2 separate regions of the Homo sapiens genome follow, and region 1 is linked to region 2. Evidence: fine-mapped expression QTL. Tissue or cell type: whole blood. Region 2 holds a variant in brackets; the other region holds the start of a gene. All regions are shown on one strand. Distances are from middle to middle.

What was found. PIP is the estimated chance that this variant, and not a neighbour inherited with it, causes the effect.
Region 1: it holds the start of ZNF286A, and the variant in region 2 is fine-mapped to the expression of ZNF286A in whole blood (TOPMed, PIP above 0.99). The same link has a PIP of 0.9 or more in hypothalamus, sigmoid colon and tibial nerve.

What each region holds. Positions count from the first base shown.
Region 1 is chr17:15,698,200-15,700,805 of GRCh38, forward strand. It overlaps ZNF286A (zinc finger protein 286A), which reads left to right and starts at 1,553. Exons shown (of 6, transcript NM_001130842.2): 1 at 1,553-1,578; 2 at 1,936-2,167. The coding sequence starts at 2,131. It overlaps ZNF286A-TBC1D26 (ZNF286A-TBC1D26 readthrough (NMD candidate)), which reads left to right and starts at 1,553. Exons shown (of 23, transcript NR_171000.1): 1 at 1,553-1,578; 2 at 1,849-2,167. RefSeq lists enhancers at 1,250-1,861, 1,297-1,346, 1,357-1,676.
Region 2 is chr17:15,726,169-15,728,930 of GRCh38, forward strand. All of the region lies in intron 6 of ZNF286A-TBC1D26 (ZNF286A-TBC1D26 readthrough (NMD candidate)), which reads left to right. Among named protein-coding and RNA genes, the nearest start is that of TBC1D26, 4.7 kb to the right of the region's middle. The variant T/C (reference allele first, on the strand shown) is at 1,119.

The DNA of each region.
Region 1 (2,606 bases), 28 kb before region 2:
ACAATATGACCACATACTCAGTGGTCCAAAATAGCACATGTTTATTATCTCATAGTTTCTATGGGTGAGAGTCTGAGCACAGCTTAAGTGAGTCCTTTGCAGCCAGCTATCAAGATGTCAGGCAAGACAGGGTTCTCATGGGAAGACTCTACAAACAATGATTCACTTCCAAGCACACAGAGCTGTCCAAAGGGTTCAGCTCCTTGCAGGTTGTGGGACCAAGGGCCTTCGGTTCTTGCAGGCTATTGGCTGGAGGCCATCCTCAGTTCCTTGTCATATGGGCCTCCCCAACATCACCACCACTTCATCAAAGCCAGCAAGAGAGGAGTCTCCTAGCAAGACACACGTTAGACTTTTATGTCACCTTTATTGCACTGTATTGGTTAGAAGCAAGTCCCAGTCCATACACAAGAGGGGATTGCACAAAGGTGTAACTACCAGGTGGCTGAGATAATGGGAGTTACAAATCCCTTCTGGGAGCTGGAAATCATCTTTCCTTGAAGTTTCTAAAAGCCACTGAACGGTTTGAAGCACTAAAGTAATAGCATATTCTTGTTTTAGAAAGAGCACTAGCCAGAAAGTGTGGAGAACAGATTGGTGGTAGAGAAAACCTTAGTTAGGGAATCCAGTTACCAGGCTGCAACGGCAATCCTAGTGAAATGGTGGTGGCCCCAACTAAGGTAATGCTACTGAGAATAGAGAAAGATGGAAACAATTGAGTTATTTAAGATACAATGAATAGGACTTGGTGATAAATAGATGGTGAGATCAAAGAGTTAAGAATATTCAGGCTCTGGTTTGTGCAAATGAGTGAGTGGGCAGTAATGTCATTCACTGAGAAAAGGAGGGCAGTCTAGACACGAAGCTGGAGGTGGATGGGTTAGTCCTCTAACAGAATTGGAGAGACTGAATAACTCTCCCTTGAAAGAACCACCTTTTATGATATGTTTAAACTAATGCTTATGTCTGCAAAGAACCTATTGCTTAAATTTGTTACAACAGGTTCAATCTTTTCAACTCATTTTAAATACATGAATTTTAGGATTACAAGTAGTCTGTGGATACAGGAACATCTGACTGAGTGTACAAAGAGGGACCTGCTCTTCCTAAAAACATCCTTCGTATGTTTTGAAAGCAAAAGGATGAGTTCTGGGCGCACAAAATATGGATAAAAGCTATGTATTTTAACGTATCTTACACCGGAGTAATTTGGGTTGAACTCAGCAGCCCTAAGCACTGTGCCGCAGGAACTTGTGCAGACAAAGCGCGGGGACGGACCCTGACTCCGGTCCGCGTCTCCGCTGCTCCCTCCCTCCCTTGCTCTGAGGATTAGACACAGGAGATGCTGCCTCATACTCTCGCGAGACGGACGGAGCTCTTCGATCGTCCGATTCTCCCAGCCGCACCACGGGTGCTCCCACCTGCGGAGAACCGGAGTCTGGCGATGCCAAGGCGCTTCTGGGAATTGTAGTTCCGGGCGGGATGAGGGCAGCACGCCTGGCTCCGCTCCTTCTTACGCATGCGCGACTCCGAGCTGGCCAAAGAAGTTCGTCCCCTTTGTGAGGCCCGGGATGGGAGGTGAGTTGCTTGTGGTGATGTCGCTCGTCTCGGCTCGGCCTCGGCGGTGGTTCCCCGGGTCGTTCTGTGCCGAGTCGGGGCTAGAGTGCGCGTTTGTTAAAGGGGCCTCGAGGGCAGACCATGAGCCCTGTCCCTTCTCACTCTGGCCTGATCCTCTCCTCGGGGGACGCGGTTGTGCCACGGGCGGGGTGGTCGCGGGGTTCTGGGCCAGTGCCCCGAGCGCGGCAGAATTTGTCCAAACTCCTGATGCCCCAGCGTCACCTCTTCCAGGTGCCCGGTTCCCCCAGGGACAGCTTCAAGCGGTAGGGACAGACATCTGAGGACCCAGCCTCAGGGATGCTGTCCCCGGGCTTCCAGGCTCCAGCGCCGTAGGACTGAGGCAGACTCCACGGTGAGAAAGAGACCCGATCTAACCCAGGCCTTTCATCAGAGCCCAGGAGGGAAGGCAGGAAGTGGGACCACGAGGCCCGGGGGGCTTCTAACTCGTCTGGCCAGGGAGATCTGAATTGGGGTGAAGAGCAGAATCTCCAGAACAAGGAGGAGGTGGTGATCATGGAGACAGATTTGGCTGAAATGCCTGAGAAAGGAGGTGAGAATTGCGGACGTGTTGAACTTGTAGCGTGGAAGGACGAAATTCCTGCTCCTGAAGGGAAAACGGTTGGCTCAGGGGAGGTGGCTCTTGGCTGGCTGTCTCCATTGTCTTGGGGATGGATGGGCTTTTTAAGTGAGACTGAAGGGCTTGGTATGGGAGCACCGCCCTTTCCATGGCAGCTGGGCACACAGTGGACCCTTCAAAGCTACCCCCAAAATGTGAGTGAAATGTTAACTTCTATGGCAAGAATTCACCTCTTTGGTTGTCAAAAATGTTTTGTTTTACATAGGAGAAAACAGGCGTAGTAGTTAATGACTGACTTCCATTCTACCTGACCAGTTTCATGAAGGTTGTGCTGTGACCTCCTACACCAGAATTCCCCCTGGGGTGGTTGTTAGATTTCTGGATTGTACCCCAGGCTCAACTAATGCTTATT
Region 2 (2,762 bases):
TGCTAAATCTAAGGGGAAATTTTGATGAGGAACAGGATATTTGCATAGAATTGAAGTATCTTTTCCAGAGATTGCTTGTTATGATTAGCAATTGCAAGGCAAAAAATAATTATATAGTGGAAGAACTGGCAAAAACTTTGATTACATGATCAAAATTAATATGAGTAAGCAGCACATGGCCATTCTGTGCCTCAGATGTGATACCATGAGAAGGACACAGCATAATGTGTGTACTATTCTGGCTGGGAATGCATAATGGGAATCTAATCATGAGGAAATATTTGACAAACTCCAAAATGAGGACTATTAAAAGGACTGCATTCTTCAAAAATATTAATGTCACATAAGACAAGGAAAAGCTGAATAACTTCCAAATTAAAAGAGACTAAAGCATCATGACAACCAAATACAATACAGGATCTTTGACTAGGTCTTGTGTGAGAGAAAATCTCCTAAAGACATTATTGGTTCAATTTTTCAAAACTGGAATACAAGCAACAGAATAGATAAAAGTAATGTATTGATGTTAAATTTACTGCAGTTGATAACTGTATCATGGTTGTGTAAAGTATTAATAATATCCTCATTATTGAGAAATGCATATTGAAGTATTTAGAGGTAAAGAAGAGTAATGTATGAAATTGAAATGATTCAAGAAAAATTTGTGTATAGAAAGAGCAAATGATAAAACAAGCAGGATTAAACGTTAACTGTGTGTCAGTCTAAGAGGAACCTGGCTATCCTTTGTAATTCTATTGCAGTCTTTGTGTAAATTTCAGGTTACTTCCAAATTTAGAAAAAAATTAAGTGAACACATATATTGACCCAAAGTTAGACCCATTCTGTAACATGAAAATACAAGGCAAAAATATATATAATACAACTATGTTAAAAGACCCTTTTTTCTATCTTACCTAAAACTTAACATCTCCAATGATTATCCATTAATAAGCTCTTTTTATTTTATTTTATTTATTTTTTTTTTTTTGAGACGGAGTCTTGCTCTGTAGTCCAGGCTGGAGTGCAGTGGCACCATCTCGGCTCAGTGCAACCTCCAACTCCTGGGTTCAAGCGATTCTCCTGCCCCAGCCTCCCTAGTAGCTGCGATTACAGGCGCC[T/C]GCCACCACGCCCGGCTGATTTTTTGTATTTTTAGCAGAGACAGAGTTTCACCATGTTAGCCAGGATGGTCTCAATCTCCTGCCCTCGTGATCCGCCGGCCTCGGCCTCCCAAAGTGCTAGGATTATAGGCGTGAGCCACCGTGCCCGGCCTAATAAGCTCTTTGTTTTTTCCTTTTCTTTCTTTCTTTCTTTTTTTTTTTTTTTTTGAGACTGAGTCTGGCTCTGTCGCCCAGGCTGGAGTGCGATCTCCGCTCACTGCAAGCTCCGCCTCCCGGGCTCACGTCATTCTCCTGTCTCAGCCTCCTCTCCTGCCTCCTGTCTCAGCCTGTAGCTGGGTCTACAGGCGCCCGCCACCATGCCCGGCTAATTTTTTTTTGTAGTTTTTAGTAGAGATGGAGTTTCACCGTGTTTGCCACGATGGTCTCGATCTGACCTCGTGATCAGCCCGCCTCGGCCTCCCAAAATGCTGGGATTACAGGCGTGAGCCACCACGCCCAGCCAAGCTCTTTCTTAAAGAGAAGATATTTCCACCTTTAACTGACAAAATCCCAAAAATTTATGTCAAGAATTTATTTTTAAAAACTTCTCGAAGATCATTTAGAAAGATTGATAACCACATTGGAAAAAGTATAAAAAATTGCATAGACCCCTGAAAATATGATTATATACATTTTCTTTTTTTGTTGTTTTTTTGAGACGGAGTTTCGCTCTTGAAGCACAGGCTGGAGTGCAATGGCGCAATCTCGGCTCACTGCAACCTGCCTACCGGGTTCAAGCGATTCTCCTGCCTCAGCCTCCTGGGTAGCTGGGATTACAGGCGTACGCACCACCATGCGAGTTTCGCTCTTGTCCCCCGCGCTGGAGTGCAGTGGCACGTTCTTGGCTCACTGCAACATCTGCCTCCCGGTTTCCAGCAATTCTCCCACCTCAACCTCCCGAGTAGCTGGGATTACAGGCGCCTGCCACCATGGCGAGCTAATTTTTTTTTGTATTTTTAATAGAGACGGGGTTTCATCATGTTAGCCAGGCTGGTCTCGAACTCCGGACCTCAAGAGATCCGCCCACCTCGGCCTCCCAAAGTACTGGGATTACAAGCATGAGCCACCGTGCCCAGCCTGATTATATACATTTTCAATAAACATTTATGAAAGTGGTATCAGGCCTTTTAATAATCAGAAGACCAAAATAAATGAAAACGAAATAACATTATCCACTAACCAGAATATGTAAAAGGAAGACTGACAAAATCAGGTGTTGGAAAGGACATCTAATTAGAACTCTCAAACTTGTGGTTGGGTTATATATTAGTCAAAAAAATCTTTGGAATTAAAATTTAATTGATAAATTGTATGTATTTATGCTATACCACATTTTACATACACACACACACACACACATTGTAGAATAGCTAAATCTGTGTATATATATGTATAGCAACAGACAGACATTGTAGAATGGCTAAATCAAGCTACCTAGCATATCAGTTACCTCAGATACTTATCTTTTTTTTTTGTGGTGAGAACATTTAAAATCTGCTGTCTCAAAAATTTCAAGTATTACCACATTGTTATTAACTGTAGTCAACATGTTGTACAATAGAGCTCTTGAGCTTTTCCTCCTAGCTGACATTTTTAGTGACATGC